4 linked regions of the Homo sapiens genome follow. The protein of the gene in region 4 interacts with the protein of the main gene of each other region in a biochemical or structural test. Each region holds a gene or a part of one and is shown on either strand. Other genes may lie near its edges. The genes, in order: ESR1, PPP1R15A, RAF1 and BAG1.

What was found.
Region 1: the proteins of BAG1 (region 4) and ESR1 form a complex in vitro, tested with the Homo sapiens proteins (one study listed by BioGRID).
Region 2: the proteins of BAG1 (region 4) and PPP1R15A form a complex in vitro, tested with the Homo sapiens proteins (one study listed by BioGRID).
Region 3: the proteins of BAG1 (region 4) and RAF1 form a complex in vitro, tested with the Homo sapiens proteins (2 studies listed by BioGRID).

The regions. Positions count from the first base shown.
Region 1 is NC_000006.12:151,810,659-151,817,683, forward strand, and holds part of ESR1 (estrogen receptor), read left to right. Parts: intron 1-7,025.
Region 2 is NC_000019.10:48,868,390-48,875,437, reverse strand, and holds the start of PPP1R15A (protein phosphatase 1 regulatory subunit 15A), read right to left. Parts: upstream 3,018-7,048; 5' UTR 2,787-3,017; intron 2,214-2,786; 5' UTR 2,205-2,213; coding exon 540-2,204; intron 1-539. UniProt on the Homo sapiens protein: Recruits the serine/threonine-protein phosphatase PPP1CA to prevents excessive phosphorylation of the translation initiation factor eIF-2A/EIF2S1, thereby reversing the shut-off of protein synthesis initiated by stress-inducible kinases and facilitating recovery of cells from stress.
Region 3 is NC_000003.12:12,584,110-12,591,134, reverse strand, and holds part of RAF1 (RAF proto-oncogene serine/threonine-protein kinase), read left to right. Parts: intron 1-160; coding exon 161-337; intron 338-3,497; coding exon 3,498-3,544; intron 3,545-5,335; coding exon 5,336-5,454; intron 5,455-5,881; coding exon 5,882-6,013; intron 6,014-6,153; coding exon 6,154-6,288; intron 6,289-6,477; coding exon 6,478-6,621; 3' UTR 6,622-7,025. UniProt on the Homo sapiens protein: Serine/threonine-protein kinase that acts as a regulatory link between the membrane-associated Ras GTPases and the MAPK/ERK cascade, and this critical regulatory link functions as a switch determining cell fate decisions including proliferation, differentiation, apoptosis, survival and oncogenic transformation.
Region 4 is NC_000009.12:33,254,702-33,261,726, forward strand, and holds part of BAG1 (BAG family molecular chaperone regulator 1), read right to left. Parts: intron 6,469-7,025; coding exon 6,386-6,468; intron 4,333-6,385; coding exon 4,219-4,332; intron 2,208-4,218; coding exon 2,100-2,207; intron 1,227-2,099; coding exon 1,164-1,226; intron 608-1,163; coding exon 518-607; 3' UTR 1-517. UniProt on the Homo sapiens protein: Co-chaperone for HSP70 and HSC70 chaperone proteins. Acts as a nucleotide-exchange factor (NEF) promoting the release of ADP from the HSP70 and HSC70 proteins thereby triggering client/substrate protein release.

The sequences.
Region 1 (7,025 bases), on a different chromosome or scaffold from region 4:
TAAAATGGAAAGGAATATAATAGAAAATATCAGAGTGCATGGTATTTCGTAAGGATAAGTTTTGTTTCCTGAAAATCTGTTTTAATTATATGTGCTTCTGTGTGCTGATTGTGATGTAAAATGTATTTCTTACTGTGGATTGAATTCAAAGAAAAAATTAGAAAGCTAATGGCCTAAAATATTATATGTTCAGTAGAAAACAAAAAATTCAGGCAAGTGGCTGGTTGTTTTTACCTATACAAATCAAAAGGCTATTTTGATTGTCTTCATTTTCCCCTTATAAATTAGGTTGGTGTCTTTAGTCATTTAGGCTAAGTTTTACTATCTGATTCTTAACTTTTCTATTGTAGAATGGTGCTGTCATGTGGACTGTCCTCCCGAGTGTCCCACTGGATGTTCAGAGAATTTATGTGAAGGTCACGTCATTTAGCATTGAGATGCTGTGGTTACCTTCTTCCATTTCTTCCATAATATGCAGCCACATCTATGTGTGAAGAAATGTAATAGATAAAATTTCTCTGGACGCATAATAATGTGAGAAAGATTGTCACATGTCCCAGCAAATTGTTATTAATATAAATTTGTTACTTGGCAAGCTGAGATTTTGCAAGATGTTACTCAAAATTTCACAATGAAGGAAACAGGGAGTCATCTTATCCTGGGTTCCTTTTTTAGATTTCAAACAACTTAGGAACTTTGAATAAAACTAAAGATGAAGCTTAACTATATCAACTATCCTTTTTAAAGTTCTAATTAGGAATTTAATGCTGCATGCTTATTTCAGTTTTATTACTCAGTATTCTTAAAAGTTAGACGTCTCTCACTTCTCCAAAAAACTTGGCAAATGTATAAATCTTTTGCATCAAAATCAATGCCCTGCTAATTTGTATCCTGGCCATCTGCATATTTTGGACAACTAATTTTTCCACTGGTGATCATTTGAAACTCTTTCTCAACTTTGAATAGAGACTGATTTCCAAAGTGAGATTTAAGTGACTAAGTTTCAAGTTTCCGATACATTTTTCCTTTTACTTAGATAACATTTCAGCCCCCTTCCTTTCTGATCTTACTTTTTTATTAATTTAAATTGTTACTGATTACGTGACACTTTGTGCTGGTCTAAGAATAGTCCAGAGTCACATATTCCCTGGTGAATGAGCATATTTTCGGATGAAAACGGAATCACATCTTCAATCCCCATTTCATTTTCACCTCCTCCATGTGGCTTGTACCTGTTTGGAAGAAAGCTCCTGAAGGATAATTGCCACTTATTCTAATCTTTCTCACACTCATTTAATTTGGATCCCTGGCTAAAGTTGTTATTTACTTTTGTGATTATACTTAGTCTATGACATTCATAATTTGGGAAAATTCTCAGGTTTGAGAATTTTGGCGGCTTGGGATTTCTTTTAGTTTCTTATAGTTTTAAGGATATGTAAGACAGGTGTAAGAAACTGCCAAGGGGAGGAACCATAGATATCAGGAAAAACTAGAAAAGATGCCAGACTTACCATTAATGAATGATGAGACAATAGTAACTTTGTTAAGTGAGATTGTATATGTGAAAGTGGTATAGAAACTAAACAAACATTAGGTGTTTTTATTATTTTACTCACATGTTAATATTTGTTTTGGTGCTTTCATAGGCTAAAAAGCTGGGAAATAACAGATTTAAGTGGTCAGGAATTTTGTTATAAATATAGAATGATGATTATATGAAATCTTTTCCTGTGAAAGTCAAATTTAAGTAAAATCTTTATCACCATCTGCAACATTTGTCTGCAGCCTGGCTTACCAGGTTATCATAAAGAACATTTATTTTACAGATACATTAAAGAAAGTCAAAACCCTGATTATGTGTAAACAATTTTACATAAGGAAATATATGAATTTTAATTATATTTTTCTAAAATCCGTACTCAGCATGAAATTAATACATCTTAACCCCTCCCTGTGACTTCATTATTATTTTTAATGTAACTTTAGAAGAACCCAGTAGAGAGAGCAGCGTGCTAAGTGTGTTTCTTTCTTTTCCAGACAACTTTGAATGGAGAGGAGCAAATTAGTCTTTTGGTTTAATTCTGTCTCAGTTTGCTTATCTAAAGAAAGGAAAACAGAGTGGCTACACTTGTTTAGAACCATATGCATACTCCAGAGAAAGATGCTCTATTAATCCAAAAAATACAGCCACTTGAAACCAGCCAAAGCGAAAGTGTAAGGGACTTCATGGAAAGGAGGCAGTTCACCAAAGTTATTGAGGGGTTTTATATTTTAAACTCCGCCAGTGAATTGACGTGTAATGTCACTTACAAAAAAAAAAAAAGTATGTCTGAGCTGTTCGCTACTTCGTCTCTAAAATATACTCATACTGATCTCTGAAATCCCAGAATTTAAGTGGGCTGGAGGTTACGGGAAGCACCTTTATAATATCCTTAATCTCATGAGGGAAGAAACCATAATTGCTGAATTCTCTGCCTTGGATAATATCAGGAGGGACTCTGAAGAAAGTTTTGCAGTAATCAACAATGTTTTAAATTATGTGTATATTTTTAGATCACCTCAAAAAATATAGGAAGCACAGAATGACAACTATTCTGGTCTCAACTGACACAATTTTATGTAGTTTAATAAAGTAATAATTTCAAGAAACGTGGGCAAATAAGAAAGAGTATGACTTTCTTACAACCCGCTTGTAAGTGATGTGGTGGTGGTAATGATCCATGATTTTGATGATGACGATGATGATGAAAATGAAGTTTTTGTCTCAGTTTGGGTAGGTGGTATTTCTGGATGCCTCCTATGGACCCTGGAGATGTTCATCCTATACAGAAATCCAATCCTTTAAATCTACTTGGCTCATTGTTTTAGAATTCTAATTCCATAGTCTGAAAATTTTAATAATGATATTACCAATAATATTAGAAACTTATTAAGTACCTATAATTGCTATACAAAAAATTTAAAAGAACCCAAAATTCCAAGCAAGACTGAAAATTTTTTGTCTCTCCTCTGAACTATTTAGAGGGACAAATTAGTTTGTTCTTATAATATCTACTTTAAATAAATGTGCCATCTTTAATAAGATAGTAGACTTCTTTGTTTGGTAATGTTCTATTTTTTGGAGATCCTATGAGTTACACTTGGGAAAATTATAAAAGTTCACTTAAAGTTAATAAAATCCATTAAGTAATGTTCAGAACTAGACATTTCCAAATGAGCCCTTGAAAAGCTCAGGTGGGTTCTTTTTGAGAGTTCCCCAAATGTTGTCAACCCCAGGAGGAATGGAAGACCTCTGCAGTTTTGTTATTCAGATTCTCATCTCCTTCTCAGAAGCCGTAGAACTGGCCGGGCCCTAAGGTCCACGCTCCTTGGTTCCAGTTCTGTCTTCCATCCTTCGGTCCCGGGCTCATTCTGCCTGTTCCTAAACGGTGGCAAGTTAGGGGCCCCAGCAGCCAACTTGTGCTTACCTGGCACTACTTCCTGGGCAGTTTTCTTGGCTCCTTGACTTGTTGGGCGGCTTGGGATTTCTTTTATGGCCCTGAAAGCAAAAGACAATGTTCTCTTTTAGTTTCCTGCAATTAAATGATGTTAGAAATAGTCATCTTCACATTGGCGTACTTCCTCTTTCTTCTGTAGGTCTTTTAGAATTTTGAGTCCATTCTCATATTTTCTTGTTTCATTTGCTTTATTTTCTAATACATAGAAGTTTAAACTCCCTTTAAAGAGTTTTTGGCCTCTTTTACCCTATTAAGCTTTCTTTTTTCTTTTCTGTTTTAGTTGTTCCATCTGTGTATTCTCAGATATTTTTCTTTCACCTTTTCTGGTTTATTTCTTTATTGACCTGTCTCATCTGTTATTTTAATGAAATTTGGAACAGGGCTAAACAGAGTTCCTACCTCAGCCAGTATAAGAATATACCGTAATAACTCAGAGTGGTATTAACTAGATTAAAAGTTTCAAAAAGTGATGTTTTTCTTGTCTCTGAGGATAGAAACTTCAACAAAATAAAGAAGAAATTTTCAATTAGTAGAATTTCTTTGAAAGTTTGTTCATTCATTCATTTGGCTACCTTATTCCAAATTGAGTCATTCATTGAGGGCTTAGACTATATAAAGTGTGGTTTTGTTTTCCCAGCAGTTCATGCAACAGCATTGCACCTAGCAGCTGGGAAGTCTTATAGCATGAATAGGTGAGATTCTAATACCAGAATCTCCTGCATGTGTAAACTAACAGTGTAGTCTTGACTGTTGTCTCCCAGTAAACTTGGTTTCAGGAGTTTTAGATCCATGTGAACGTGTACAAGGCATTTTTGCTAACTGTAACTTCCCACTTAATCAACAAAAACAAAAACACTCATTTCTGAACATTCAGTGCATTCATGATTAATCTTAATTACACCACAAAGGTATTTTTCAATGGTGATTTTGCGGGAGTGGGGTAACAGTTTCGAAAGCAACATTGTCAGAAACATAGTTGATTTTAAAGGTTCTTTCTGGTGACTTTGACTTCTGCTTTTTTAGAAGACCTTACACAGAGTTGTATTTATTTCTCCTGGAATATTTCAAGCAATTCAGAGTGAAAGGGTATACATTCCAATTTGCGTATGAGATAAAATTTAGTTACATTGAGAAGCTATTTTCTTTAGTTACAGGGAAAAAATTGTAGGGCTTTTGGAAGCCTCTTTGATTTCTAATAGGAGGAATCCCTGAGCACTGGTCCAAACAGAAATCATCTCTTCTTCATTGCTGTATTTCCCTCAAGCTCTTAGCAAAGTGCATGGCACGTGAAAGCCCGGAGAAGCTGTTGGTTGAAAGAATGGATGGTGGTGGGCAGGAAGCATCAGGGACATGGTTTGCTTCAGTCTATTGGCTGGGAGAAAGGCCATTTAGGAAGGGATCCTTAGATGCCACTGGAAGAATGTGGGAAGTTTGTGAATCTCTCTTTCTCAGGAACAAAAGTAGAAAAAGGACTCCACACAGCATTCCAAGTACAGTCGGCCCTCATTATTCATGGATTCTGTATTTGCAAATTCGCTGACTTACTGACGTTTATTTGTAACCTTCGAGTCAACACTCACGGTGCTTTCTCAGTCCTTTGCAGACGTGTGGAATGGCAAAAAAATTTGAGTTATATGACGTATATGTTCCCAGCTGAGGCTGAGCAAGGCTCACTTCTCCTTGCAGCCCTCAGACTATAAACAAGTGTCCCTCTTGCTATCTACTTCGTGTTATGATTTTTGCATTTTCATAATCCCTGTTGATGATTTTGCTGTTTAAAATGGCCCCTAAGCATGGTCCTGAAGTACTGTCTAGGGATTCTAAGACAAGGCTCTGACGTGTCTTAAGAGAAAATACGTGTTTGATAAGCTTTATTCAGGCATGAGTTACAATGCTGTTGGCCATGAGTTCAATGATGGTGAATCAACAGGATATATTAAATACAGTGTTTTTGAACAGAAAAACATATAAAACAAGGTTATGTATTAATGAGTTGGCAAAAATGCTGTGACCAAAGGCTCCCAGGAACCTACCCTATTTTCCCCTCAATGCAATGGTTCAGTATTTGCTAATTCAGTGTTTGAGGTGACTTTATAGAACATGAGTACCATGAATAATGAGAATCGATTCTGTATAATAGAGTGATGAAAGCACAGGTCTGGGAGCCAGCAGCTATATTTCTATTCTGGCGTGACTCCTGTGTAGTTGTCATCACTGGCAAATTGCTTAACTGTGTGCCTCAGTTTCCTAATCTGTAAAAGCTACATCGTTTGGATGATGTGAGGATTAAACAAATTCATAGATGTCTAGGGCTTATAACATTCCTGGCACATAACAAGTCATTATTTTTTATTACTACTTCGGAAGGGAATTGAGTACTATACCCTGAAGAAGGTGAGTATGGGAATTCTCTACGGGTCTGGAATGTCCCTATATTTGTTTATTTTGCCTTCAAGTGACTAACTTTAATACCCTATTGTGATTAGAAGTTAAACTTCTGCAACCAAAAGGAAGCAGGAAGCTAGTATTTCTTGAAGTGCTTATTACATGCCAGGTACTGTGCTACAAAAACAAAACAAAACAACTGTAAAAAAAACTTCAAATTTGGCTGCGTGCAGCTGCTCATGCCTGTCATCCCAGCACTTTGAGGAACTGAAGGGAGGATTGCTTGAGTCCAGGAGTTCCAGACCAGCCTGGGCAACACAGTGAGACCCTGTCTCTACAAAAAAACAAAAACAAAAACAAAGGCACTCCAAATCAGTAAAAATTAATCAATCAATAAAAAGAGTGAGGGGCATTAAGTATTGTGGACTGAAGCAATCCCAGAGAGGGAATTAATTGAAGCTGAGGTAAGCAGCTTATGGAGAAGCTATGATGTACAGAGGGCAAGGAAGGAATTTTTCTGTAATTTGGAAAAATGGGAACTGTGAGAAAGAAGGAGTTGGAAGCTCATACTTAGGGAGCATCTACAAGGACGTCTTTTTCACGTTGGTTGGAATATCCAAATCAAGGATTATTTCAGAATCACCCAGATGATTAAAAAACTACTGAGATCCAGGTTGTATTTCAGCAGTTCTGACAATTGCTCTGGGTCGAAGCTTGAATCAGTAGTTAAGAAAAACAACAAACAAAACAAATTTTGGGGCTTTTCTCACTGATTTACAGTTAAAGCTCATTTACTCTTCCTATGACTTTAGATGGAGGATATTTCCAAGTCTTCAGGATGGAGACATGGAGGGAAGTGAGACTAGTGATGTGCCTCAAGGTTTTGCTGTTGTTCTAACCATGAGGAGCACTATTCAAACCCAGGTCTGCTAGATTTCCAAGTCTTCATTTCCTTGGGCCTCTTGGATTTCAGAAGCAGAGGGTAAAAGGAGTGCTGGGGAGAAAGATCACAGTAGCTTTCAATTCTACTCCTCAGCTTTCCAAAATAAGTTTCAAGACTGGCCGTTGCATTTGATATGGAATAAATACAAAGAAGGTAGATTGAAGGGTATGAAGATGCAGATTTTTGATACCAGATATGAA
Region 2 (7,048 bases), on a different chromosome or scaffold from region 4:
ACTGAAGGAAGAGGTGGTTTCCTGGGGCTGCTGTGAGCCACAGCTGCTCCCTCCTCCCCCAGGGGCCTGGCCTCTTACAAGGGATTGCGTGACAGCGTACACAGCCTTCTCCATGGAGATGACATGCAACCCTCTGCAACATACAGGGACCCAGAAGTCTCGGCCCCCAGCCCCCTTTCTTTCTAAGACTCAAGAATCTGGGCTCTCAGCCAGATGTGGTAGCTCACGCCTGTAATCCCAGCACTTTGGGAGGCTGAGATGGGTGGATCACGTGATGTCAGGAGTTTGAGACCAGCCTGGCCAACATGGCAAAACCCCCGTCTCTACTAAAAATACAAAAAAAATTAGCTGGGTGTGGTGTCATGCGCCTGTAATCCCAGATACTCTGGAGGCTGAGGCACGAGAATCGCCTGAACTTGGGCGGCAGAGGTTGGCAGTGAGCCAAGATCATGCCGCTGCACTCCAGCCTGGGTGACAGCCCAAGACTCCAACTCAATTAAAAAAAAAAAAAAAATAGAATCTGGGCTCTCAGCACCTACCTTTCTGGCCTTTAGGGGAGTCTCAGGGTCCGGATCATGAGTAGGGGTTTCTGGGCGCTTGAGCCGCCTTTGCAGTCGGAGGGGCAGCCTAGGAGGAGCCCAGGGAGGCGGTGGCTTCTCTCCAGGTACATAGATGGCCACTCGGAAGGGGCAGGGCTCAGCTTCTCCCCAGTCCTCAGCAGCTTCCTCTTCCTCTGTCTCTTTTCCAGGTCGATATCCCCAGCCCCTGAAGTGGGCCCTCTGGTCCGGGTGGGAGGGATGTGGGTCTGACTCAGCTTCTCCCAAGGCTGCTTCTGAATCATCTTCCTTATCCTCACTATCCACATCCTCATCTTCCTCCTCCTCCGTGTCCTCTCCTGGCCGATACACCCAGGCCTTCAAGAAAGCACTTGCAGGGGGTGTGGAAGCAGAAGTCTCAGCTTCTCTTTCATCCTCGGCTGATCCTGTATCACTGTCCTCATCTTCCTCCTCCTCTGTGTCCTCTCCTGGCTGATAGACCCAGGACTTCAAGAAGACACCTGTAGCAGGAGTGGAAGAGGAAGCCTCAGCTTCTCCCTCTTCCTCATCTGATCCAGAGTCACTGTCCTCATCTTCTTCCTCATCTTCCTCTTCCTCTGTGTCCTCTCCTGGCCAATACACCCAGGCCTTCAGGAAGGCACTTGGTGGGGGGATGCAGGGAGGACACTCAGCTTCTCCATCCTTCTCAGCTGCCCCCAAAGCCTTGACCTCACCCTCCTCTTCATCACTGGGTTGGCACCACCAGGACTTGAGCTGGGGCCTCTGGGCTGGGGCTGAGGATTGCGGCCCTGGGGCAGCTTCTCCTTTCCCAGTTTCTTTGTGTGCCTTTTCCTCCTTCTCCTCGGACGCCTCTCCTGAACGATACTCCCAGGACCTGGGGTCGGAGCCTGAAGATCGGGGGGACACGGAGGTCTTCCTGGCTCCTTTACTTCTTTCTGTTCTTTTATCCTCCGTGGCTTGATTCTCTTCCTCCCCTGGGCAAGACACCCAAGTGCTGGGCTTGGATCCTGGAGACAAGGCAGAAGTAGAGGTTCTGTGAGCTTCTTTCTTTACAGCTTCTTCATCGTCCTCCTCCTCCACGGCTGGACAACACTCCCGGTGTGATGGTGGATAAGAGAACTTGTTAACTCCCTCCTCTTCAGCAACTCCCTCTTCCTCGGCTTTCTCCTCCCCTGGGTTCTTATCAGAACCTTGCAGTGTCCTTATCAGAAGGCTGGGAGACAGGGGAGCACGCTGGCCATCTGCAAATTGACTTCCCTGCCCTCTAGGGACACTGGTTGCCTCTCGCTCACCATACATGCCATCATCATCATCCAAAAGTCCCCAGGCTTCAGGAAGGGAACTGCTGGTTTTCAGCCCCAGTGTTTCTCTGTCCTCTCCAGGGCCTCCACTGTCTTCAGCCTCCTCTTCAGGGCGTCTGCCCCAAGGGGTATGGGGGATTGCCAGAGGAGTCCTAGCTTCTCCCTCCAGGCCAGCTTCTACCAGAGCTGCTCCTTTTACTGCTTCCACCAGCCAGGGCTCTAGAGGTCCCAGGCCCCTCAGGCGGCTCCAGGCGCGGCTGAGGAGGCCCATCACTGGGGACAGGAGGAAGAAAGGGTGGGCATCCCTCCACGGGGTAGCCTGATGGGGTGCTTGGCCTGGGGCCATGTGTCTGGGCTGGAAAAGGGGGAGAAAAAAATAAAGTTTAGGGGCCATTTAGAGGATGGCATCCGGGCGTGACTATGAGTCATAGCAACGGAAATAGTAACACAACTATTGTAAATAGCAACGCGAGAGTCCCAAATTCCTTTCTGATCTCGGCCACGCCCATCTCTGTCCCTTGGCTCTGTTCTTATCTCTCAATAGCCAGGAGTCTGAGCCCCTAGTTCTGCCTTAGATCCAAGGGTCCAAGCCCCCAGCCCTCTCTTTCTTCAGACGCAGAACTCCCAGTCCCAAGAACCAAGAACAAAAGTCTTTACTTGCTTCCCTTGGCGACAAAGTCATAGTCCCTAGCTCTCTCATTCTGCTGAAGATTGACAAATCAAACCCTCACACCCTCCTCCCTCGCAGACTGAAACATTCTGACCCGACCCCCTACTTGGCAGATGATTCCTTCACGGGGGACCCAAGAATCTGGCTTCCAGATCCCTCCTCCCTCAGGCTCAGGACTCCAGGCTCCCAACCCCTTCTCCTTTCTAAATCCGGGCCCCCAGCCCCGTGGGGACCCAGGCGTTCCGACCCCTTACTCACCGGCTGGGAGCTGCGCGTCACCCCGGGGGCAGGAGCGCCGGTTCGGTCTGCCAGAAGCGATCACAGGTCCGGACGGTTAGGGAGGCCAGCGCGTTCATCTCACCCTCAGGCGTCGGGCTCCGAGTAACTCAGAGTATCTCCGGCTGCCTCAAGTGCCGTGGCGACAAGCGGGCGCGGGGTCGTGCAGCGTCTTGCATAAGATCAACAACTGGGATGGGAACCGATAAGAGCAACGAACACAATGGCCACTAGGCTTTTATAGCCTACCGCGCCCGGCGTGCTGACGTCACGAAGAGAGGCGGGGTTTCGAGACCGCAACCCGAAGGGTGGGAAGTGGAAGTAAGACAGGACTTCTCGCGGAGATTCCAGCTTTTGCAACGTCACGGCGGAGTTTCCGAGCGTGACCACGCCCCTCCAACAAACGAACTGTCAATCAAATGCGTGGCCCTGCTTCAACAGCGAGCCAGTTCTCTCTCAGCTCAGGGTCAATGCCTTCCCACCCCAATTTATTTATTTATTTAGTTAGTTATTTTGAGGCGGAGTTTTGCTCTTGTTGCTCAGGCTGGAATGCAAAGGGGCGATCTCGGCTCACCGCAACCTCCGCCTTCGGGGTTCAAGCGATTCTCCTGCCTCAGCATCCCGAGTATCTGGGATTGCAGGCATGTGCCGCCACGCCCGGCTAATTTTGTATTTGTTTAGTAGAGACGTAGTTTCTCCATGTTGGTCAGGCTGGTCTGGAACTCCCGACGTCAGGGGATCCTCCCGCCTTGGCCTCCCAAAGTGCTGGGATTGCAGGCATGTGCCGCCACGCCCGGCTAATTTTGTATTTGTTTAGTAGAGACGTAGTTTCTCCATGTTGGTCAGGCTGGTCTGGAACTCCCGACGTCAGGGGATCCTCCCGCCTTGGCCTCCCAAAGTGCTGGGATTACAGGCGTGAGTCACCGCGCCCGGCCTATTTATTTATTTATTTATTCATTATTTATTTTTCTGAGACGGGATTTCACCATGTTTGCTAGGCTGGTCTCGAACTCCTGACCTCAGGTGTTCTGCCTGCCTTGGCCTCCCAAAGTGCTGGGATTGCAGGCGTGAGCCACCACTCCAGGCCTATTTATTTATTTGTTATTTTTTATTTTTTTATTTTTTTTTGAGATGGAGTCTCGCTCTGTCACCGAGGCTGGAGTGCAATGGCGTGATCTCGGCTCACTGCAACCTCCATCTTCCGGGTTCAAGCGATTCTCCCTCTTCAGCCTCCGAGTAGCTGGGATTACAGGCACGCACTACCACACTCAGCTAATTTTTTGTATTTTTAGTAGAGACAGTGTTTCGCCATGTTGCCCAGGCTGTTCTCGAACTCCTGAGCTCAGGCAGTCTGCCTGCCTCGGCTTCCCAAAGTGTTAGGATTATAGGCGTGAGCTACTGCACCCAGCCTATTTATTTTTTGAGTAGGCGTCTCACTCTGTCGCCCAGGCTGGAGTTCAGTGGCGCCATCTCGGTTCACTGCAACCTCCACCTCCTGGGTTCCAGCGATTCTCCTGCCTGAGCCTCTGGAGTAGCTGGGATTACAGGCATGTGCCACAATGCCTGGGTAATTTTTGTATTTTTAGTAGAGACAGTGTTTCGCCATGTTGACCAGGCAGGTCTTTTTTTTTTTTTTTTTTTTTGAGACGGAGTCTTGCTCTGTCGCCCAGGCTGGAGTGCAGTGGCACGATCTTGGCTCACTGCAAGCTCCTCCTCCCTGGTTCTCGCCATTCTCCTGCCTCAGCCTCCCTAGTAGCTGGGACTACAGGTGCCCACCACCACGCCCGGCTAATTTTTTTTGTATTCTTAGTAGAGACGGGGTTTTTCACCGTGTTAACCAGGATGGTCTCGATCTCCTGACCTTGTGATCCACCCGCCTCGGCCTCCCAAAGTGCTGGGATTACAGGTGTGAGCCACCGCACCCGGCCGACCAGGCTGGTCTTGAACTCCTGACCTCAGGTGATCTGCCCGCCTTGGCTTCCCAAAGTGCTGGAATTACAGTTGTGATCCACTGTGCCTGGCCTCCTACCCCAATTTAGCCCACAGGCCCCAGCCTAGAGTCTCCCATTTTCTTTTTTTTTTCTTTTCTTTCTTTTTTCTTTTTCTTTCTTTTTTTTTTTTTTTTTTTGAGACGGTGTCTCACTCTGTCACCCAGGCTGGAGTGCAATGGCATGATCTTGGCTCACTGCAACCTCCGCCTCCCGGGTTCAAGCAATTCTCCTGCCTCAGCCTCCTGAGTAGTTGGGAGTACAGGAGCTTGCCACCACGCCTGGCTAGAGTCTCCTATTTTCACATGTGGTTGGTTTCCTCCCCGAGTGCGAGGGTGTCATTGTTCCCATTTCACAGATGGGGAAACAGGCTTGGAAATGAAGCCACTTGACCAAGATAGTCACAGCAGGGTCCAGATTCCTTGCAAATGAGAATGAGGATGTAAGCACTATGAGATCAGGCACTTTGCTGGGCTCAATGCTTTTCAAAAAAAAGTAATTAGGCTGAGCGCGGTGGCTCACGCCTGTAATCCTAGCACTTTGGGACGCTGAGGCAGGTGGATCATGAGGTCAGGAGATCAAGACCATCCTGGCTAACACGGTGAAACCCCGCCTCCACTAAAAATACAAAATAAATTAGCCGGGCGTGGTGGTGGGCACCTGTAGTCCCAGCTACTCGGGAGGCTGAGGCAGGAGAATGGCGTGAACCTGGGAGGCAGAGCTTGCAGTGAGCTGAGATCGTGCCACTGTACTCCAGCCTGGGCGACAGAGCGAGACTCCGTCTCAAAAAAATAATAATAATAATTAATTTAGGCCGGGTGCAGTGGCATGTGCCTGTAGTTCCAGCTACTCAGGAGGCTGAGTCAGGAGAATCGCTTGAACCCGGGAGGCGGAGGTTGCAGTGAGCCGAGATCACGCCACTGCACTCCAGCCTGGCGACAGAGCAAAACACCGCCTCAAAAAAAAAAAAAAAAGAAATTCATTTTCTAAATAGAGACAAGGTCTCGCTATGATGCCCAGGCTGGTGTTGAACTCCTGGTCTCAAGCGATCCTCCTGCCTTGGCCTCCCAAAGTGCTGGGATTACAGGCGTGAGCCATTGCACCCAGCCAGGGCTCACTGCTTTCTTCTCAGTGGCTGCAACAGACAGTGCCTGCACACAGTAGGTGCTCAACAGGTGCATGGTGAATGGCAGTTAAACCGAAAGCTCAGATTCCTTCCCGGTCACAGGCACAAGGCTCCACTCCTGGGTGTCATCTGCTTCAGACTTAGGCAGTAGCTCTGCCCCCACAAGCCGCGATTCTGCCTGGGTGGCACTCTTTGTGCGGGTGGGGGCGCTTCTGCTACAAGTTCCAGGCCCTGGGTGACAGTTCCAGCCCCCCGCTCTCCTCCCCTGCCTACGGATGCATAATCTTGTTCCTCAAAATATACCAAGGAATCATGTCTCTCTCCTGAGGGAGTTGTCCTCAGTCTAGAAGAGAATTCTCACCTGGATCTGAGGTGGAGGTTTGGAACTCTCCATTTCACCCTGCCCTACTGGGACCATCCCCTTTTCTCCCTAGGGGACCTGGACAAACCGTCCCTGGCCCCTTCCAAGCACAGCCATGTTTCCAGACCCCCAGCTCTTTCACGACTCAGGAGTCCTGATCCTAGCTCAGACCTTCTCGGGCACCCAGGAGTCTGGATCCCTAACCCATTCCCTCCAGGGCTTTGGAAATTTGAGTCCCCACCCCTTGCAGGACACAAGCCTCCTCCGTTTAGGACACCAGTGGCTCAGGCCCCCAACCACAGCAGCAAACCCACGGGGGCCCTGGAGTGCAGGCCTCAAGTCCAACTCTCCAAACACTGAGAAGTCCCAACCTTGGTCCTTAGGGGACCTGGGAATTGGGGGGCCCAAGCCCCTCCCTTCAGCTATGGGGGCAGCTGAGCCAGAGGTCAGGCTGTAGTGGGGAGGCCAGAAGGGGCGGGGACAGCCGGGATTGGGAGGGGAGAACAGCAGCGTGGGCGGCTGGCAGAGGCAGGGAAAGACCAGCAGAGAGGAAAGAGAAACTGGGAGAGGGAGGAAGGGAGAAAGTGAGAAGGGAAATCGGAAAGAGAAAAGGGAGGAAACGGCAGAGCCAGAGAGAAAGAGGAAGAGACTGAGTGTGAAGGAGAGAGGACACAGGGGATGACTGAGAGACAGAGAGAGAGAGAGAGAGAGAATGAGACAGAGACTTAAGGAAGAGACCCTGTGAGTCTGACAATAAAAGATTTGGACA
Region 3 (7,025 bases), on a different chromosome or scaffold from region 4:
CGGGTTATCAGCCGTGCCATGTGTTTGTTTTTGGGACTGGGGGTGGTGTTGGGACTGGGGGTGGTGTCGACAGCACAGAACCCACTGTCCACGGGAAAGCACAGTAGACCTCCCTGAGCACTTTCCTCCTCCCTCTCCTCTCTTCCCCTCCCCTCCCCAGCAAAACACGGCATGTGAACATTCTGCTTTTCATGGGGTACATGACAAAGGACAACCTGGCAATTGTGACCCAGTGGTGCGAGGGCAGCAGCCTCTACAAACACCTGCATGTCCAGGAGACCAAGTTTCAGATGTTCCAGCTAATTGACATTGCCCGGCAGACGGCTCAGGGAATGGAGTGAGTAGATGGTCTGATGCCTCTCTGGGACCCAGGCATCAAATTTGTCCCTAAATTGGAACCAGGATCAGGAAAAGCCTTCTAGTCCATTAAGCGATTCTGTGATATCTTTGCACAAGCCTCTGGCCTGGGCTGGAGGGGCCAATTATCAGGAATGAGTTGTTCAGGTTCCAGCTGGGTGGGGTGGCTCACACCTGTAATCCCAGCACTTTGGGAGGCCAAGGCCAGTGGATCACTTGAGGCCAGTAGTTTTGAGACCAGCCTTGCCAATATGGCAAAACCCTGTTTCTACTGAAAATACAAGAATGAACCAAGTCTGGTGGCACATGCCTATAATCCCAGCTACTCAAGAACTGGGACAGGGAGAATCGCTTGAACATTGGAAAGCAGAGGTTGCGGGGAGCTTAGATCACGTTACTGCACTCCAACCTTGGCTGCAGAAGCGAGACTCTGTCTCAAAAAAAAAAAAAGAGAAGTTCAGGTTCCTCCTTGGGACTGAACTTCCCCCTTGGGGCTCAGCTTTGGGCTCTGCCTGCTACCCTGGCTTTATCAGAAACCTGAGAATATAGTGGGGTGCATGTACCTTCTGCTTGGACAGCTGTGGCAATGCCTTCTGCTCAGCTGTCTGAGGCATGGCTGTCCCACATGAGGGTTTAAGCAGATGTTGTTTTTGGGATAATTTTTTTTTTTTAATTAAAAACTTTTTCCTGGCCAGGCACGGTGGCTCATGCCCATAATCCCAGCACTTTGGGAGGCTGAGGCGGGTGGATGACGAGGCCAGGAGTTCGAAACCAGCCTGGCCAATGTGGTGAAATCTCATCTCTACTAAAAATACAAAAATTAGCTGGTTGTGGTGGCAGGCGCTTGTAATCCCAGCTACTCGGGAGGCTGAGGCAGAAGAATCACTTCAACCCGGGAGGCGGAGGTTGCAGTGAGTGGAGATTGTGCCATTGCACTCTAGCCTGGGTGACAGAGCCAGACTCCATCTGAAAAAAAAAAAAAAACCCAAAAAAACCACACTTTTTTCCTTAGAGACACAGGTTCTCACTCTGTCACCTATGCTAGAGTGCAGCGGCGCAATCATAGCTCACTGCATCCTTGAACTCCTGGGCTCCAGCTATCCTCTTGGCTCAGTCTCATAGGTTGCTGGGACTGCAGGCACATGCTACCGTGCCCAGCTAATTTTCGTGTATTTTGTAGAGTCGGAGGTCTCACTATGTTGCCCAGGCTGGTCTCAAACTGGACTCAAGTGATCCTCCCACCTTTCCTGGCTAGCCTAGGGTAGTGCTTCTCAAACTTCTCCTCTGAAGTAGAGGAGCTCCTCGTACCCCTAGACATCTGGGAGTTACTAAGCTATAGCTGTGCTTGCAAGTCCTACATAAATTCTCACACTGTCTTTAAAATTCATATGGAAGTTGCCTTCTGTGTATTTTAAGAAATGGAATGACTTTTCAGAAAAATTGAGATATAATTCATACATCATAAAATTCCCCCTTTTAAAATGTACACCTACCTCAGTGTTTTTCTGGTATTGAGTTGTGCAGCCACCACCACTATCTAATTTTAGAACATTTTCATTATCCCGGAAAGAAACACATGCCCATTGTATTAGTCTGTTTGGGTTGCTCTAAAGGAAGACCTAAGGGTGGGTAATTTATAAAGAAAAGAGGTTTATTTGACTCGGGGTTCTGCAGACTGTACAAAAAGCATGACACCAGCATCTGTGTCTGGTGAGGCCCTCAGGAAGCTTTCACTCATGGCAGAAGGCAAGGGGAGCCACGTGTGATGTGGTGAGAGAAAGGAGCAAGAGAGAGAGCATGGAGGGAGGTCCCAGACTCTTTAATAACCAGGTTTCATGTGAGCTAATAGTGTGTGAACTCACTCGTTACTGCAGGGAGGCCACCGAGCCGTTTGTGAGGAATCCATCCCCATGACCCAAACACCTGCCACTTAGGTCCCACCTCCAACACTGGGGATCACATTTCAACTTGAGATTTGGAGTGGACAGATATCCAAACAATATACCCATTAGAGGTTACCCAATACCTCCCACCCACTTGCAGTCTACTTTCTGTTTCTATGGATTTTGCCTACTTTATAGTTCAATATAAATGGAATCATGTAAGATATAATATAGTCAGGTAACATATAATGATGTTTCGGTCAATGACCACATATAGGAAGGTGGTCCCACAAGATTATAATACTGTATTTTTACTGTGCCTTTTCTATGTTTGGCTATGTTTAGAGACACAAATACTCACCATGTTACAACCAGCTACAGTATTCAGTACACTGAGGGCCATACAGTTTTGTAGCCTAAGTGCAACACGTTATACCATTTAGCCAGGGTGTGTAGAAGGCTGTACCTTCTTGGTTTGTGTGAATACACTTTATGATGTGTGCATGATGACAAGTTGGCTAACAACACATTTCTCAGAAGGTATCCCTGCCGTTAAGTGATGCTTGGCTGTATATAATACATAAGATATGGTATTGTGTGCCTGGGCTCTTAGACCTAGCATAGTATTTTCAAGGTTAATGTGTAGCATGAGTCACTACTTCATTCCTTTCTGTGTCTGAGTAACATTCCATTGTATGGATATGCCACATTATTCATTCATCATTTATGGACATTGGGTTATCAGAATTACTTTAGAGTAAAACTGATGCTTGAAGAAGTGTCAGCAATGGTCAGGCGCCAGGGGCCCATGCCTGTAATCCAAGCATTTTGGAGGCCAACATGGGAGGATCACTTGAGCCCAGGAGTCAAGACCAGCTTGGGCAACAGTGCAAGACCCTGTATCTACCCAAAAAAAAAAAAAAAAAAAAAAAGGCGGCATGGTGGCACATGCCTGTGGTCCCGGCTACTGGGAGGTGGGAGGATCACTTGAGCCCAGGAGGTTAAGGCTGCAGTAAGCTATTGACTGCACTCCAGTCTCCAAAAAAAAAAAAAAAAAGGTGTAAGCATGTTTGTGCTGTGGCCTCACCTTCAGGTAAGCAGTGATGTGAACCAGGCTGAACAGCACAGGGTCTATCCCTGTGTGTAACACTCCTTGGAGCCAGGCCTTCAGTGGCTTTACTTCTTAGCTGTAGTTTAAAACTGCTTTCTACTCATGCCCCTCAAACTTATTTTTAATAATTTCTTTTCCCTTCACAGCTATTTGCATGCAAAGAACATCATCCATAGAGACATGAAATCCAACAGTATCCTTTGGTTGTTGAGTTCATTTGACTGCTCGGTTCTAAATTTAGGGAAACAGAAGGGAGGCTTTCTATCACAAGTGGCTCTCGGTGCCAGGGGATATCTTTTTAAGGAAAGAGGCAGAGGACAGGAAAACAGAAAAGTCAGAAAATTAGTAGGCTTGGCCTGTCCCTCAGCAGCTTATGCCTCACCTGGACTGATGAGAGCGATGTTTAGGTTAGGTTCCTTTCTGAGTTTATCTCAGCAAAAGTGATTTGGAGAGATTTCCGTAAGCTTGAAATAGGCATAATTTTATCACACTATTAGTAAATGTAACCTGACGGGGATTGGGCTTTTGTCTTAAGTTTATTTCTAGTTTGTGGCCAGCGTGTGTATGTCTATCTGCTTGTTATGTGGATAGCAAGTAGCTACAAGCCAAATGTTGAAAGGTTTCCAAAATCACTAATTAAAATAGTCTTTCTTGACTGGGCGTGATGGCTCACACCTATAATCCCAGCACTTTGGGAGGCTGAGGCAGGTGGATCACTTGAGGCTAGGAGTTTGAGACTTGCCTGGCCAATGTGGTGAAACCCCATCTCTAAATTTAAAAATTAGCTGAGTGTGGTGGCACGTACCTATAATCCCAGCTACTCAGGAGGCTGAGGCACGAGAATTGCTTGAACCTGGGAGGCAGAGGTTGCAGTGAGCTGAGATCACGCCACTGCACTCCAGCCTTGGGGACAGAGCAAGGCTGTGTCTCAAAAAAATAAATAAATAAAATGGTCTTTCTCAAAGGTACATAAGTGGGTTCTTCAGAAGTCACTATTAGAAGAGGAGAGGGGTTGTTTTTATAGAAGAGTAAATGAAGAAAGGTATTTTTAATGCTGTGAGGCGTGAAATTTAACAATTTTGAATCTGCCACCCTCCACGAGCCTTTCCTTGTGAAAGAAAGATGGCATTACAACCCACGTTTTGCCTCTTGAGCAGTGAGAGGCATGATAGTTGTGTTGGATTATGGGACATGGCCTATTTTAGGTACATGTCTGAGGTGTGGAACACCTTTCAGTGGTGGGGTTTTTAGCAGCCAAACATTATACCATGAAAGCAGACACCACAGATTTAAGGAGGTGTGAATTCCTGGGCACCAACATCACAAGTTACTTTGTGTGTGTTTTGTTTTTTAATTTTTTGTTCTTTTTTAATTTTTTTTTCCTCACAAGTTTGACTTAAACTGTATGACTTCTTTACCCAGAAGCGAGCCGACTTCAGTTCTCATTTTGAAGTCACTGAGTGGTACCGATTCTAGTGAGGAATTTCTTACTACAACATTGAACACTCAGTAAGGGATTTGCTATTTTGTTAACCACTCAAGTTTCAGATGGTGATTTGAGGGCAGAATACAGGCAGAAACGACTGTAAGCTGTCAGGCCATCCTTGGCCCTCTGGGGAGCACTGGAGTGTGGCCTCTGCTCATCCTGTTAGGGTTTCAAGTACCTGTATTATGTGGAAAGGTCACAAGGCCAGAGACCCAGCACCTAGATGTGCAAATGGGGAGAAGAAGCAGGGAAGAAACGCTGGCTTGCTTTTGGCTAGGGCCAAATAATCTGGCACATTGACCAATCCCTGCCTGTCTTCTGGAAGAAGGTGCATTTCAAAAGCACTTTAAAGAACTTCAGAAACCTTAGGAAGTTCAGTGCAGAGAGGCTGTGACAGAGGTAAGGTGGAGAGATTACCGTGTTATAAAGAACTTTGGGATATTTTTCAAAATTAACCTGACCATTCTTTTGAAACCAGAGTCCTTAACAAGCATTGAGATATATTTCTCCATGAAGGCTTAACAGTGAAAATTGGAGATTTTGGTTTGGCAACAGTAAAGTCACGCTGGAGTGGTTCTCAGCAGGTTGAACAACCTACTGGCTCTGTCCTCTGGATGGTGAGAATCTGGGCTCCCACCAGCAGTCTCTGGTATAGGGCAAAAGGAATGCCTTGGAGATTTATGTGCAAACTTAAAGCGTTTCTGTACATTTCCCCGAAATCCACATGACCCCTAGTGACAGCCAGCCTCAGGGCAATTGTAGATTTTCTTGAGGAAGCTGTTGATCAGAACCACTGTGAAGCTTAGTGTGGAGAGGAGTTAATAAGCTGGGTGACAGAAATGCTGGGTCTTGGTCCTTTAAAGACAAGGATTCCTGAGCTGTTTTAACCAGTGCCTGAGTTGGAGTCCTTTGGGGGAAAAGCTATGTGGGGACTGAAGAATGGACTCATTCATAACTAATGAAAGGGACAGCCTGGCCCCTAGATGTCTGTGAGGCCTGTCATATGGTGATAAATGCACTTTTGTCATATGGTGATACATGTAGGCCCCAGAGGTGATCCGAATGCAGGATAACAACCCATTCAGTTTCCAGTCGGATGTCTACTCCTATGGCATCGTATTGTATGAACTGATGACGGGGGAGCTTCCTTATTCTCACATCAACAACCGAGATCAGGTAAGTCTGTGCTGGTGCGAAAGGACCCAACTCGTGGGAGCCCCTGGGCCTCCGCCAGCCTAAGCAGCTAGAGGGTTAGGACTTGTTATTATCTGTTGTTCATTCACCCCCCATTAGCTCAGCTGTTTTCTTTCCCTTAGATCATCTTCATGGTGGGCCGAGGATATGCCTCCCCAGATCTTAGTAAGCTATATAAGAACTGCCCCAAAGCAATGAAGAGGCTGGTAGCTGACTGTGTGAAGAAAGTAAAGGAAGAGAGGCCTCTTTTTCCCCAGGTAAGGCTCAGGGCTGCTAGAATGTGATTAAAGCATGGGTTGGTTCGTAAAGATGGCAATATAAGGTGGGAGTGTTTTGTTTTGTTTTATAGGGAGGGGACCCAGGTCCTCTACAAGATGGTGGGGGGCAGGGTACATCCTGTGTCTTTGAGACACAGCTAATGAGAGCATTCTTGGGCTTTGTTTCAGATCCTGTCTTCCATTGAGCTGCTCCAACACTCTCTACCGAAGATCAACCGGAGCGCTTCCGAGCCATCCTTGCATCGGGCAGCCCACACTGAGGATATCAATGCTTGCACGCTGACCACGTCCCCGAGGCTGCCTGTCTTCTAGTTGACTTTGCACCTGTCTTCAGGCTGCCAGGGGAGGAGGAGAAGCCAGCAGGCACCACTTTTCTGCTCCCTTTCTCCAGAGGCAGAACACATGTTTTCAGAGAAGCTGCTGCTAAGGACCTTCTAGACTGCTCACAGGGCCTTAACTTCATGTTGCCTTCTTTTCTATCCCTTTGGGCCCTGGGAGAAGGAAGCCATTTGCAGTGCTGGTGTGTCCTGCTCCCTCCCCACATTCCCCATGCTCAAGGCCCAGCCTTCTGTAGATGCGCAAGTGGATGTTGATGGTAGTACAAAAAGCAGGGGCCCAGCCCCAGCTGTTGGCTACATGAGTATTTAGAGGAAGTAAGGTAGCAGGCAGTCCAGCCCTGATGTGGAGACACATGGGATTTTGGAAATCAGCTTCTG
Region 4 (7,025 bases):
AATTAGGTCACAATGAGGGATAAGTGGTCTACTTATGTGCCAAACACCTTGTTCTAGGCCATTCCCAATATTCCTGACTAGGTGCAACCTCCTGGTGATTCTGGTTTTACAGCTATGGGACTACACGATCACAAGAGCAAAGAAGCCCTCATGTATCTGAAGACTGAGGGGGCCTATAAACCTGAAACTGGCCCAAGGCAAATTAGAGCTCTCACCAGCCCAAAGAAAGCACCCAGAGGTCCAAACAGCTGGGAAAATTTGGGCAGAGGTGGCCCTCTCCAGAAAAGGTGGATTGCTGGACAGTACAACCACAGAGACAGAAGGAGAAAACAGATAGGAGCTTTACTCAAAATCACAAAGACACTATTTTTCATTGAGAACCAGTGTGAGAGTAGGAAAATTGGCAAATGGCCAGTTGCCCCCAGCAGCCCTGAAGAAATCAGGTAAATTCCGCTCCAGAGACGGCAGAGCTGGTGGCGCCATTCTTCAGGGCAGCACAGCCTTTTTCTGCTACACCTCACTCGGCCAGGGCAAAGTTTGTAGACTGCAGCCGCTCAGTCTCCTGGCAGATGTTCTGCTCCACTGTGTCACACTCGGCTAGGAATGCCTAGAAAATACACACGGGGCAGTAAGGGCCCATCCAGGGGTAGCCGACCACTGCCCACACAAGGCTCCTTGCTTACCCATTCTGGGGAACCCATGGCTGAGACTCAAAACAGATTGTGCATGAATGGAGATGGGCCACTGGCCTGGGTTCCAAGGTAAGGGGAGGGAGGGAGCATAGGACCAGCATTCTGACCATGCTCTAGGCCAGCAATCCCCTAAAAGGTGGTAAAGGCAGGGAGCTTTGCCTCAGGGCCACTGCACAGCAACTGCACAATCGCAGGAAGCACTGTGTGCATGAATACTGCCTCCTGGAATTGTGTAATGTGTCAGCCCTACCTGCTCTCCAGTGAGTTCCCTCCCTAAATAGTTTAAATTCAAATATAATTACAGGGACACAGGTGGCTCTTCTCTGACGTTTGGGGTTCCTGCTGATAAATATAACCAAAACAAGCCCATACCACACACCACGCTCCTACACTACCTGATTTTGAACAGATAAACACACATACCTACACATTAACATATTACACCTTGTCGTGCACTATTACACAACTCACCTGAACCTTTTTTACCAAGCCTTTCCTTTTCAATCTACTGTCTTTGAAATTTTCTGGCAGGATCTATGGAAGAGTAAGTTGATAATACAAGTTAGTAAATAGTAAACATGTAACAAATAATCCTCAGTGAAAATGACATGAGAGCACATAAGAAACACCCACAGTACACAAAACAGGTCACAGGTCACCAATGTAAATGTGATATCCATTTTCAGGAACCCTTTCCCTGGGTCTGTATCCTGTATGGCCTTTCCATGGCTCTTGTCCCTATAAAAGCTCCCTGTGTTCTCAATGTCTGGGCCATAGGAACTGATCTTTAACACAGACTTTGTTCTTTTATTGTTTCCTATGTATGGATACTCTGCCCTGGCCACACCATGGGCTCATTGTGACAGGAAAAGTGCCTGCTGCTGCTTCTTTACACCCACCCTGGCCAACAGAAGTACACAGTGCAGTTCACCTTCAAGAATGAAGCATCAGGCTAGAGATATCATTACTATCATCTGCAAAAGAGTTAATGATTTTCAATGGCCTCACATGACCTGGGTCTGGCTGAATCATCTATAAGTAATGAGCCCTGCAGAATTATCAGTCACATATTCATCAGAGAAAGTTAAATCCTCTGTTTCCTGGACCATGAGATCGTGGACTCCTTGGGTCCCAGCTTCATGACGATTACAGATGCTACTGGCAAACATAAGTGTAAATGATAAAAGTCCTATGCTGGAGGGCTGTGAGTGCCTAGAAAGCAGGAACTGTCTTATCATCATGCATTCACCCAGGACCTAGCAACATGACTGGCACACAATAGTAGATGCTTAATATTCTCAAGTGATGGGTTTGCTCAGGCAATAGGAGAGTAAATTACTGAAAGAGTGAATGTGACTGAAATAAAGTCAAAGAAAACTAGTTCTTCTCAGCTGAATATTTACTTACCAGTGTGTCAATCTCCTCCAAGATCTTCATAAACTGCTCTATTGTGGCTTTTACTCTCCTATCAAGTTTGCAGAGAGCTTCAGCTTGCAAATCCTTGGGCAGAAAACCCTGCGGGGAAATAATGCATTATTGCAAGGGTTCTCTGAGGCTGACGGAAGACTCCATGCCACAATACTAATGATGCAATCACACTGAGCCCACCATAGCCCTGGCAGGCCAGGCCACATCTCAGATCCACAACTTTAACTCTTGGAAAAATTAAAAAGGCTGGCCGTGGGCCAGTCCAAGAATTCTATCAGGTTGCAGTCTGCTCTACCTCGCATGACCCACTGTGGCTGCAAATGCCTCCTGAGGCTTGGCTCCAGTGAAGCCCCCAGTCACAAGAAGAGGCAGATGTTAAAAGCACAGGTTTAGAGTCTTCAAAGCCTACGCCTGAAAACTGACTGCCATTTACTAACTTGTGATCTTGAGCAAATTATTTAGCCTATTCATGCCTCAGTACCCTCATTTTAAAAATGAAGATTATGATGCCCACACCCTAGATGGTTACTGTGAGGTAAAGGGAATATATGTACATGTGTCACTAACTTGTGGCACAGACGCATGCTAAAGAATGGCAGCAGTGCTTATTTTTATCAAATTGTCTAATGGTTCACTCACACAGCTTGGCCTAATGACCAGTTAGCTGGTGACAAGAGTTGGATAGCAGGGATCTCTGAGGATGTTTATCACAGCCACGAGCTACAGACACAGATTTCACAACACGTAGCAAGAGCTTTAAACATCACCCAGCAATTCCAACTCAAAGAATTTATTCTACCAAAAAAACCAGGAATGGTCAAAAAAGATTTACGTCCAAGGACAGTCAAAGAAGCATTACACATAATGGTAAAAATAATATTAAATGAACAATACAGAGTTGGCTAGGTAAATAATACATTTATACAAGATGAAATGCATGCGAGCTTTGAAAAATACCATCACAGGAAAATGTTTAATTTTTTATCCAATAAAAGAATAGTTTATAAAGTGTAAATAACATTATATCAAATTTTTTTAAGATGAAAAATATATTTCAGGCTTTGGTAATCGTCATCTCTGAGTTGGTGCCCCATGGGTAATTTTTATTTTCCATATTAGTGCCTATACATGTACTTAAAACTTTTGTACAGTCAGCATGTATTCTGTAATTAAAACACAAACATATAGGCCGGGCGCAGTGGCTCATGCCTGTAATCCCAGCACTTTGGGAGGCCGAGGCGGGCAGATCACTTGAGGTCAGGAGTTTGAGACCAGTCTGGCCAACATGGTGAAACCCCATCTCTATTAAAAATACAAAAAAATCAGACAGATGTGGTGGCAGGCGGCACCTGTAATCCCAGCTACTCGGGAGGCTGAGGCAGGAGAATCACTTGAACCTGGCAGGCAGAGGCTACAGGGAGCCACTGAGATTGCACCACTGCACTCCAGCCTGGGTGACAGAGCGAGACTCCATATCAAAAAAAAAAAAAAAAAAAAAAAAGCCAAAACACAAACACACCCCAATTAATGCTATAAAATGAGAGGGAAAAATAAATAAAAGTGGTCTTGAGCTAGTCCTAATCCTTACTGGGTTTTAGTACCCCATCTCTAATATAAGGAATTGAATAGGATGACTCCCCCAACCCCACTATCATGTTCAACTTGGACCTTCTATGAACCAACAAAATGTTATTTGCCTTGCCAAACACATTACAACAGCCCAGAGAGAAGCTACTTGTTCTATTTCAGACAATACATGATCCTAGCAAGGCAGGTGCTCTCCTGTGAGCATAAATGGATGCTGGCTGGGGTTTGACAATAACTATGACAATAAATGCTTATAAAGCACTTAGTATGTGTCAAGCTCAATCTACATTATTTAATTCTCCCAACAATCCTAATAGGGAAATGTCACCATTATTCCATTTTTACAGATGAGGAACTTGAGACAAAGATAAACTTGTTCACAGTAAGAGAAAGGGTGAATCCAGGATCTGAACCCAGGGAGTCTGACTGCAGAACATGTCCCCATAACCACAAGTTATATCCAGGAAGCTCTGATAGAAGGCAGAAAGTTAAGGTCCATGAAGAGAGTTACCTGCTGGATTCCAGTAAGCTCTTTATTCAACTCTTCCAGCTGGTCAGCTATCTTCTCCACAGACTTCTCCAAATGTTTCAACTTCTTTAGTTCAACCTCTTCCTGTGGACTGTTCTAAAATGTTTAAGAAGAAAATAAAGCCAATAGTCAAAAAGAACAGGCTGGGCATGGTGGCTCATGCCTGTAATCCCAGCACTTTGGGAGGCCGAGATGGGCAGATCATTTGAGGTCAGGAGTTCAAGACCAGCCTGGCCAACATGGTGAAACACTGTCTCTACTAAAAAAACAAAAAAATTAGCCAGGCATGCTGGCGTGCACCTGTAGTCCTAGCTACTCGGGAGGCTGAGGCAGGAGTATAGCTTGAACCTGGGAGGTGGAGGTTTGTAGTGAGCTGAGATCGTGCACCTGTACTCCAGCCAGGGTGACAGAGCGAGACTGTCTCAAAAAAAAAAAAGAAAAAAGAAAAAGCAATCAACAAGAACAGCAGCCTCTGTCAGGAAAAATACCTGACCACACCTGCATGAAGCCACTCACCTAGAAATAACAGTTTTAACTCTGTTGCTTCTTGGAAATCAAGTCAAAGGGTTATACATCAAGTTTTCCATCTACAAAGACTCCAGACTAGAGAGAAGGTGTTAGGTAAACATTCTGGTGAGGGCCCTGACAGCTTGGGTGCAGAGAATGGAGACAATCCAAGTGCCAGATTCAGTCTCAGCCCTATACTGATCAACAACCAAGACTGAAGCCTGGAGGGTAATCACATTTCAGTAAACACTTGTGAGGAGTCCAGAATGGCAAGAAAGGTGGAATTCTACCATTCCTTTAAATGGAATTCCTAAATGGCAGCCTCCAATTGAGCGCTCCTGTTTAATGTGATGCTGGTTAACAACGATGAATACTTTTATTGAACACTTCCTACATGCCACACACTATCCTAAGCACCTTACCTATTTTTTAAGCCTTACCACAACTCCATCAGGGAAGTACTGCTGTTTTACAGATGATGAAACTGAGGCTTAATGTAGTAAAGTAACATGAGATCACACAGTCCAAAAGAGGTAGATTAGACTTAAGTTCAGACTTTTTTCTTTTTTGAGATAGGGTCTCACTACGGTTCCCAGGTTGGAGTGCAGTGGCTGTTTACAGGCATGATCATAACTCACTGCAGCCTCAAACCCCTGGACTCAAGTGATCCTCCTGTCTCAGACTCCCAACTTGCTGGGACAATAGGCATGTGCCATGGTGCCTTCCTTGAGTTCACACTTCGCTCCATACGCTCTGTGTCAGCTCCAAGTAAAAGTCCTATAGTTTCTTCAAACTTGACTCTTTGGTTCTGCCTGTTGCCCATCACCATTCTCCCTGACCCTGAAGCAAGAAATTTAGAATATTTCCCTCTTCTCTCAGGTAAACAATTGATAGATAGGTCTAGCAGCTTTCTGCTTAGTTATGCTATCCCAAATTATTCACTTCTCTTTGTGGCAAGTCCTGAGTTCCAGTCTCCTGGCAGTTCCAAGTCTGGATTAGATTTTTTTTGCCTTCACTTTGTTTATCTGCCCTCTCTCTACTCAGCCACCTAACTCACAATAAGGGAACTTCATATGCTCATAATTCTGCTGTGTCACAATGCAGGGCTGGCCACAGCCCTCTCTCATCACCTTAAGGGTTGCTGACCTCATCTGTCTTTTTTTCCCCTCAGTTCTTTAGTCTGAACCTTCCTTTCCAGTCGAAGGTTTTCCCTTGTGGGAGATTTTAGTTAAAAGGTTGGTTAAAGGGAGAGAGGCTCCTGAACTGGAACAGAGTGATTATTCTTAATATCTACAAGTTTATTTTAACAAAAGACTCTTGCAAATTCTACTCCAAGTGAATGAGACCTGTCCCAGGCACCATTTTAACCAGACCAAGATTCCACCACCAAAACAAAAAACATATTATTAAGGCAGCACAACCGCTCCTAATTCCTAGAGCAAAAGTTCTAACCAACAGGAGCAGGAGGGTATGAGAACAACAAAACTGGTAATCCTGTAAAACCAATAAAGATTGTATTTGTTTAGAGAGGTGTTTTATCAATGCAGAATCTGGGTCCCCAGTTTGGTCTTCTAAACAGAAACATGTATAAAAGACTTCAGTCATTTGATTCTGAGGATTTCTGATGGAAAAAGCAATTTACCTTTTTCCCAATTAACATGACCCGGCAACCATCTTGTATTCCAAGTGCTGACAACGGTGTTTCCATTTCCTTCAGAGATTTTCCTAAAAAGAGGAGAAAGGTAGGCCAAGTTGTAATAATTGTACAACACTGAAAATAAATTTCAGCAGGATACAGGAAATAGACAAGTGTGTTCACTAATGAGAACTGGTATCTTTTTAGAGGGTGTCATGACCCAGTAATTTCATTTCCAGATATTTATCCTAAACAAATAATTGGACATGCGACTCCACAGTAACTACTATACGATAATATTCAGTGCAACCTTTTCATAATAGTGAGAAACTGGAAAGAGCCAAATATTCAGGAATCAGGGACCAACGAACCACACTACAGAAGACTTTAAAGTCTTCAGTAGGCATTAAGGTCTACAGTAGCCATTAAAGCTCATTTTTTGCAGGAAACCCCAATACCACAATGAATGCTGATGACACAGTGTTATTATGAGGGGTTTTATCCAGGGGAACATTTTCTTTTTCATGCATTCCTCTATTTTGAAACATGAATTTCTATTGTCTTTATAATTCAGAAATAAAATATTTTTAAAAATTAAAGACAATATGTTACACTATGAAATATAAATAAAAATGCCTCCTATTAC